2 separate regions of the Homo sapiens genome follow, and region 1 is linked to region 2. Evidence: fine-mapped expression QTL. A gene starts in region 2. The other region holds a variant in brackets. All regions are shown on one strand. Distances are from middle to middle.

Region 1 (4,498 bases), 660 kb before region 2:
CGTGTTTTTCCTAGCAGTTGGTTTTCTTTTTCAGATTTTAGGCTTGGCCTGTGGACTCCATGCAGGCAGGACTGTGCCTGCCTTGTTTCTTTTTTCTTTCTTTTTCTTTTTTTTTTGAGACAGAGTCTCACTCTATCGCCCAGGCTGGAGCGCAGTTTGGCTGACTGTAACCTCTGCCTCCCAGGTTCAGGCGATTCTCATGCATCAGTCTTCTGAGTAGCTGGGATTACAGACATGCACCACCACGCCCGGCTCATTTTTTGTATTTTTATTTTTATTTATTTATTTGAGACAGAGTTTCACTCTTGTCACTCAGGCTGAAGTGTAGTGGCTCAATCTCAGCTCACTGCAACCTCCGCTTCCTGGGTTCAGGCAATTCTCCTGCCTCAGCCTCACAAGTAGCTGAGATTACAGGCACCCGCCACCACACCCAGCTACTTTTTGTATTTTTAGTAGAGACAGGATTTCACCATGCTGGCCACGCTGGTCTCAAACTCCTGACCTCAGGTGATCCGCCCGCCTTGGCTTCCCAAAGTGCTGGGATTACAGGCGTGAGCCAGCTGGCCCGGCTTGCCTGCCTTGTTTCTGAGGAGCCGAGCACATGTGGGCCTACGCACATCTTTGCTGAGGGAGTGCTTCTCCATGAAGAAGGCCAGATTCCATGTTTACTGCTTCGGGCGGCACCAGCGTTCCATAATTCCCATCACTCTTGGGAGATGCCCTGGGAACTTCAGCCTCCCTCTGAATAGAGGATACGAACTGCCAGTTGGCTCTATGACCTGTAACTAATCCTATCTCAACGTTAAACCCACAGTTCATTTGTTTTTGTTTGTTTTGAGAAAGAAAGTTGAGTTTCCTGAGAAATGAACTCACTTTGATCTTGACACATGAAGTCAAAGTTCAACATTTCTGTAGTGTCTTTCTGCTTAGAAGGCACTGATAGGCATCAAGTAGATGGAGCGTCACAGGCATTTCCAAAGGGCTGGGTGTTTATGACCAATCGGGATAATTACATGCTTGTTCAGGTACGGGTTGCTCCTGGCTATAGAGACAAAGTGTGTGGAAAGAGGAATGGAGATTCGATCAGAAGTTTAAATAGAAACAGTCCTTTTTTACTTGGAGTCAGGGATTGGGGGAATGGAGTGCATTAGCTTCAGGAGAGTTAAGAGAAAGTCAACCACTCCCATTGGCTGGTCAACTGCACCCCTCATGTGCAGAGACCTAGGGGGACGAAGCTTCTGTCTGCCAGCTGTCATTCCACAGCAGAGGTGGGGTCCACGGCACCACCCTCAGCCTGTCACCAGCTCAGCCTGGAACAACAGCACACATCCAAGATGCAAAGGAAGGCTTCCTTCTGGGGCTTTTTCTGGACATGGAGAAACTCAAAGACTGCCTGGAGAAGGTCACAGCTGTAATATTGACCTCGTTTGCAATCTTTCCACCCAGCAGGATAAAAATACCTTTTAAAAAAAGAAAGCTTAGAAGAGGGCATTCTCAGAAACCAACCTTCTTAACAACTCACACTTCTCTATTCCTGGGCCAGCTTGTTTTCAGCCATTGTTATGTGCAAGTCTTGATAGAAAAAGCCAGCCAGGGCTCTGCAGAATCAGAAAAAATAGGAAGAGAGTCTGGGGCTCCACAGGCAGGAGCTTGCAGGCAGAAAGGGCCCCGGGCACATGGCATCTTCTCCTGGCAGACCCGATTAGTCACCGAGAGGAGTTTTCCTCTACCTGGCAGAGGCAGAGGAGTAAGTTAAGAAAAGGAGATGTGTGTCTCCTCTGAGTGGCTGTAACTTTGTGTTTGCACCCCAGATTCTATGATGAGGGTGGGGGTTCAGTAGGAGAACCCCAGAAAGCACAGCTGGATAGAGAGAGACAGCCTGTGGGGAGAGGCTGCCCGGTCATGAGTTGTCTGAGGGATGCTCTGGGTTTTCTTGCACTGGGGCCATTTCAGCCTGTTGATGTAAAATTTTTTAATTAAAAAATTAAGAAGAACTAGGGGATATTTCAGGAAACAAGACCTCTGTAATGGCTCAGAACACAAATAGAAACAGCGTATTACTCTTCCAGGAGCTGCTTACCATAGTTGCCAGGAATTCAGGACTGGATGCCTTCGGGGCTGAACCCCTGAGGACTCCTGAGAACACAC[G/A]TTGCCCTCAAAAATCTACCTACCTGCACACATTTTCTACCCTCTCTGCAGGACGCCTCAAGGAAGAAAGTAAACAAAATCCAGAACAAATCATTTGGCCCCTGAGGCAGGAGGGTAACTGCTCACTGCTGCTGCTAAATGTCTATTTCCTCTCCCCAAAGTATTGCTTCTGAGATGGACCGCATTTCCCTTCCGTAGACCCTCTGGGCCTGGGTAGAGAGGCCAGGGAACGCTTGGGTGATGCAATTGGAGCTTCTATTTAAGTGAGAGGAAAGTGGCAGTACAGAAAATAGAAGAGGTTCTTGCAGAAAATTGTGGGGCCAGGCCAGGCATGGTGTCTCACACCTGTGATCTCAGCTCTTTGGGAGGCCAAGGCGGGTGGATCATGTGAGGTCAGGAGTTCAAGACCATCCTGGCCAACATAGTGAAACCCCATCTCTACTAAAAATATAAAAATTAGCCGGGCATGGTGGAGCACGCCTGTAGTCCCAGCTACTCGGAGGCTGAGGCACAAGAATCGCTTGAACCCGGGAGGCAGAGGTTGCAGTGAGCCAAAATTGTGCCACTGCACACCAGCCTGGGCAACAGAGCAAGACTGTTTCAAAAAAAAAAAAACAAAACTGTGGGGCCAGTGGGAGGAAGAGCAAGGGAAGGAGCAGCTCTGTCAACTCGGTGCCCTCCAGCCGCACAGGGAAAAGCTCTTCCTCCCTGCCATTTGGCCTTCAAGTTCGTCAGTTGTTTAACGTACAAAACATGTCATTGATATAGGCCGGAGGGAAGTACAGAGGCCTTTTTAAACAACACAACCACTGACTACCAAGTTCAGGTTTAATTTAGCTGAATATTTAAATATGTTGACATCTCATCATGTAATAAAATAATAATATCCCTTGGCCTGGTAAATGGTTACCTATGGTGGGTGAGAGGATGTGTGGTTATTTTAAAAGCCTATCAAGCCTAGTTGAGGGCCGAAGGAAGGGGGAAGTGGGGGGAGGCCAAGGCCAGGCAGTAGCATAAATGGTGAGCAGGGTGAGGTTATGGAGACCGCTCTTGTCAGAATTCATATCCTTCTGAGTGGTGTTTGCATTCTTGAGCCTGGGGTGGGTGGCGGAGGGCCCAACAAGTGCGGTACAGCCCAAGACGTCTACCTCCCCTTACACACACACAGCCCCTAGCTACATGAAGCTGATTTATCTCTTGTTGCTGTAGATATTTTTGGCAACAATCGATCCCTTTAAAATTTTTATTTTCCACTTTACAGAAAAAATGCAGCAAACGCCAAACCCTAGTGACTGACATTGCCTGGTGTTCATGTCTAATCCTTGCTCATGTTTATAGCCATAGTCATTCTTGTGAAGCTACTATTTTGTGTCCTGATTTTTCACTTACTATGTTTTTGTCTTCACATGTGTAGGTAGCTAAGTTGCAGTCACCAAAAACCCCAAATAGGTAGGAGACATCCATGCGCCATTTCTATTAGCCAGTTCCTAGCCATCCTCCTAACTGTTGGATCTGGAGGGTTAGCCTCAGATCATTGCAGTTATAAACAGTCCATCCCTGGCTATCTTTTCTAGAAGGGTCCAGTGTCATCTCAGCTAGGCAGAAACGTATTTCAACTCCCAAACTGTTTCAAGAGTTTGAAAAGCTCAGGCCCAGAAGAAACAGAGTGAGCAGTTGAACAGTCTTACAACTGCTGCTTACAACTTTATAACAGGCCATAGGTTTAAAGTCCAAAAGGGCTCAAATTTCTACCCCACGTTTGACGACTCAGACCTCAAGCCAGAGCTGAGCTGACTTCCCTGCGCCCAGGCCACGGCGGTGAAATGAAGGCACAGCAGCCCCGGCCAGGCCCTCCCAGTGGAGGCACAGGGGGACGGCGACACCAACCACCCCAGCATCAGTAACCTGCACACTCTTCTCCCTAGGTCTCCTGGAGGCAAGGCGACCTTGCTTGCCCTCTCTTGCAGAATAACAAGGGGCTTAGCCACAGGAGTTGCTGGCAAGTGGAAAGAAGAACAAATGGTGAGCAGCAGTGCCGTTTAAGGACCAGTCGGGCTTGCAAATGCATAATGGGAACGCAGAAAGGCCATGTGCAGATAGACTGGACACAGCCGGAGGCAGCTCAAATCTGCCCCAACCTTCCTAGGGGCTAAAAGACGAGTGACAGAATCTGTAGCTGATGAGCTGGGGTGCCTCACGAAGGGTGGCCTTTTTACCTCTGTCCTTTGCTTTTTTCCTTTTAAAATCATAGCTGTAGTTGATATAAAATATAACTTTGGGTGTGCAGCTTAAATGATGGTGAGGACTGTCCTGCCTGCTGAAAGGCAGAAACGCCTTTGCTTGTCATTGT
Region 2 (4,226 bases):
CAGATGACAGGCCTATGGCTCACTGTCTTTGAGCCATCTGTCCTGGGGCTGATCTGTCCTGGGCTTGGAGGTGGGGCAGAGAACTAGAACCCTGCCTCTGCCTGAGGGAAGTGGTAAGGAATGGGGCCGATCAGCAGAACAGGCAGCGAAGCCTGCTAGGAGCGCCTGTCTCCAGGCGTGGACACCAAGGGTGGTGGGCCCCTGCTTGTACTCACCTGCCCTGGGCTCACTCGTGTGTAGGTCACTCTTGGTGACACCTATACATGGGGAAAGAACAGAGCTTAGGGCAGTTGGGGGACTCCGTGTGTGTGTGGTGGGGAGGGGACGGCAGGCCCCAAGCGCCAGGCTGGGATGGAGAAGTTGGCTACTGAGGACTGAGGAACCGGCAGAGGTCCTCAGATGGTGACTGTGGAGGGTGCGGCGAGAACAGAGCGGGACTGGGCTAGCCTTTCACATCCCTCTCTCCCTGGGCCCTCCAGGGCTCCTACCTGCGGAGGCAGAGGCCACAGGCTCTCGGGACAATGGGCTCCCGCCTCCTCCGCCGGTCCAGCCATCACCTGTGGGTCCAAAGCGAAGAGTTGGGGCGCTGGACGCGGCGAGGCCCTGCCCTCTCTCTCCCCAGGCCCAGCCCGCCAGCGGAAGAACTCCGCGTCCCCCTCGGCGCGCCACTCCTTCCAGGACGAACTTTTGGCAAAGCGCTTTGAGCTCGCGGGCCGAGGCCTTCCCAGGAGCGGGTCACCTTACCTCGCTGGGACCCAGGAGCCTCGCGAGGGCTGCCAGGAGAAGCAGTTGGGGCGAAGGCGGAGGAGGCGCCATTCCAAGCGGCCCCGGGCCCGGCCCGCCGCCCAGCCGCTCCGCCAGCGAGGGAGCGCGCGCGCCCCGCCCCTCCAGCCCCAGCGCCCCCGCGCCGCCCGCGCCGCCCGCGCGTCCGTTGGCCCTGGGCTCGCGCGCGCCCCTCCCCAGACAGTGGGCCCCCGGTATCGCCCCGCCCCAATGCCCGCCCACAGCAGCGGAGTGTGCGCGCACGCGTCTTAAACCCGAAGCCGGAAAAGTTAAGTGTAGGAACCGGGTCAGCGCGCAAGGCTCAGTAGGGCAGGCGGGGGGCCCCTTTCCTCGTCCGGGGATTCGTCTCAGCAGGTCCCTGCAGTCTGTAGAGCAGCTGCACAGCTGCAGCGCCTGGATGAGATCGTGGAGCGGAGTGTAAGGCCGGAAATGGAATCCCTGTGGACCGGGTGGCCCAGGCTGGGGAGACGGGTACACTCCCCTGGCAAACCCGCTTCAGATTTGTCGGTGTGACCTGCAATGAGAAGAGGGGCAGAATCATGAAGTCAGGAAGAGCTGCTGAAGGGAGAGGGTCCCACCTCTGGAGCTTCGCCGTCGGCCCACCCCGCTCCCGCCCTCGCAAATAGGGTCCAACGCGGAGGAGCCTCGGGAGGTGTCTCCGCTCCCCAAACTCTCCAAACCCAGAAGCCCCGGGAGGCCGGAGCTAGCCGAGAGGCTGCTGTCTTCCCCACCTCCGCCGTCGCCCAGCGGTGGCAGGCGCGCGTCTAGAAAGAGATTGGTCGCCGCGAGATGGGGACGCCACAGGCCTCACCCCCAGGAGGTGCGCTGGCCGGCCCGCCCCGCAGCGGGGCGCTGGTTCTGGTTCCCTCTCCAGGATTTGGGGGGGAAACGTGGGTAGAGAGCGAGGGTCGAGATGCCTATCCCAAAGCTTGGAAACAGCGAGAACGTGTTATTTCCGTGGTCTCCCATGCACCCCGGTTTACGAGGCGTTCCTTGTAGGTCGGACGGGCATCCCTGTCGCAGGGCGCCTGAGTGTGTCCTTTTCTCCGACTGACTCTCGGAGGCTTGGGGCTGCTGTTTCTGGGGAAGCCACTCCCGGGCTGAGGATTTCCTTGATGTGGAGCCCCGAGCTCGCGGGGACGGGGGCGAGGAGTCCACGGGACCCGCACTGATGCAGGCGGGGAAGCAGCAGCCTCCCGCCAGCGGCTCAAGACGCCGCGCTCGACCTCTCTAGCCCAGTGCCGGACCCCGCCCAGCCAAGTTATTGCGGGGTTGCGGGGCCGGGCGGGGGAGAGCAGGGCCGCCCGAGGGCAGAGCGCGCGCGCGGCCGCCGCCCCACGGGGTCCCGGGAGCCGGCGCCCGGAGCTGCGACTTACTCACCTCTCCCTTCTGCTTCTTTTCATCGGCCTCTGAGGGCGCAGCGCCCAGGGTCTGGCGGAAGACCCTGATGACAGTCGGGTCCCCAAGCCTCGGCCTCCAGTCTCCCCACGTCTCCATGGCCAACACCGCTCTCCCCGGCTCGTGCCCTCCCCACTCCCTTCCGGCTGCCGGCGCGCCCTCCCTCCCTGGTGGCCCCGGCTCCTCTCACCCTCTGCTCCCACTTGTTGCAATTGCTGTACAAAGGGCCGGGGCGGGGGTGGGGGGCGGGCGAGGGCAGCCGGGCCCGAACTGGCTGCCTCTGCCCGGCCACGGCCAATCCAGAGCGCGCCCGCGCGGGAGGGCCCTGGGCAGCCGCCGCCGGCGGGCGGAGCCGCGGGCAAAGCGCGGAGCTCGCCGAGTAGACGGCCCCGCCGCCCGCTGCCCGCCGGGGCTCTCCAGCTTCGCCATGCCGCCGTGGGGCGCCGCCCTCGCGCTCATCTTGGCCGTGCTCGCCCTTCTCGGCCTGCTCGGCCCGCGGCTCCGGGGACCCTGGGGGCGCGCCGTCGGAGAGAGGACCCTGCCGGGGGCCCAAGACCGAGACGACGGGGAGGAGGCGGACGGCGGAGGCCCGGCGGACCAGTTCAGCGACGGGCGCGAGCCACTGCCGGGAGGGTGCAGCCTTGTTTGCAAGCCGTCGGCCCTGGCCCAGTGCCTGCTGCGCGCCCTGCGGCGCTCAGAGGCGCTGGAGGCCGGCCCGCGCTCCTGGTTCTCCGGGCCCCACCTGCAGACCCTCTGCCACTTCGTCCTGCCCGTAGCGCCTGGGCCTGAGCTGGCCCGGGAGTACCTGCAGTTGGCGGACGATGGGCTAGTGGCCCTGGACTGGGTGGTAGGACCTTGTGTTCGGGGCCGCCGGATCACCAGCGCCGGGGGCCTTCCTGCGGTGCTTCTGGTGATCCCCAATGCGTGGGGTCGCCTCACCCGCAACGTGCTCGGCCTTTGCTTGCTCGCCCTGGAGCGCGGCTACTACCCGGTCATCTTCCATCGCCGCGGCCACCACGGTTGCCCACTGGTCAGCCCCCGGCTGCAGCCTTTCGGGGACCCGTCCGACCTCAAGGAGGCGGTCACATACATCCGCTTCCGACACCCGGCGGCGCCGCTGTTCGCGGTGAGCGAAGGCTCGGGCTCGGCGCTGCTCCTGTCCTACCTGGGCGAGTGCGGCTCCTCCAGCTACGTGACAGGCGCCGCCTGCATCTCGCCCGTGCTGCGCTGCCGAGAGTGGTTCGAGGCCGGCCTGCCCTGGCCCTACGAGCGGGGCTTTCTGCTCCACCAGAAGATCGCCCTCAGCAGGTGGGTAACGGAGGCCGCAGACCAGCATGGAAAGAATAGAGGGCCTGAGCTGGCTAAGAATCAGAAACAGCTATGCATAGCATTGGAACAGGCGTGGGCCAGTTTGGGCAAAGTTCTCTGAACACATCTTCCAAAGCCTTCCAAACCCTGTAATCTAGACAGAACCGGGGAAGCGGGTTTAAAGGTCATCGATGGACTCAGCTAGTATCGCTGTGCTAGAGCAGGGACTCCTAACCCGGCCCCTTGCCTCATCTCGGCACCCCCTGCTGTATCCTAGCAATCTGAGCACCTGGCCCACGACAGCAGAGATACCTGACATTTACCACTTAGCCCACAGCTTAACAGCTCAGCAAAGAGCACTCTGGAAGCAATTGCAAACGATTATCTGCCCAGAATGTTTACTCACAGTCTCTGAGCCTGGAGGTGACAGGAATCAGAAATATGGTGGCATTTGAGGCCAGGTGCAGTGGCTCCCGCCTGTAATCCCAGCACTTTGGGAGGCCAAGGCAGGAGGATCACTTGAGCCCAAGAGTTTGAGACTAACTTGGGCAACATAGGAAAACCTGTCTCTACAAAAATTTCTTTTTTTAATTAGCCGGGTGTGGTGGCATGCATCTGTGGTCCCAGCTACTCAGGAGGTTGAGATGGGAGGATCACCGAAGCCCAGAAGTTCGAGGCTGCAGAGAGCCCTGGTCAGGCCACTGCACTCTAGCCTGGGTGACAGAGCAACACCCTGT

The links. PIP is the estimated chance that this variant, and not a neighbour inherited with it, causes the effect.
Region 1: its variant is the best candidate, but not a certain one, in a credible set for the expression of ABHD15 in whole blood (INTERVAL, PIP 0.51).

Annotation. Positions count from the first base shown.
Region 1 is chr17:30,222,491-30,226,988 of GRCh38, reverse strand. It overlaps SLC6A4 (solute carrier family 6 member 4), which reads left to right. Exons shown (of 15, transcript NM_001045.6): 2 at 4,074-4,170. Among named protein-coding and RNA genes, the nearest start is that of SLC6A4, 11 kb to the left of the region's middle. RefSeq lists a silencer at 892-1,092 and an enhancer at 4,031-4,498. The variant G/A (reference allele first, on the strand shown) is at 2,149.
Region 2 is chr17:29,565,349-29,569,574 of GRCh38, reverse strand. ABHD15 (abhydrolase domain containing 15) reads left to right here and starts at 2,538. Exons shown (of 2, transcript NM_198147.3): 1 at 2,538-3,489. The coding sequence starts at 2,609. TP53I13 (tumor protein p53 inducible protein 13) reads right to left here and starts at 874. Exons shown (of 7, transcript NM_138349.4): 1 at 745-874; 2 at 489-557; 3 at 216-257. The coding sequence starts at 816. RefSeq lists enhancers at 1-334, 1,418-1,467, 3,488-3,597 and silencers at 638-997, 1,998-2,257, 2,348-2,967.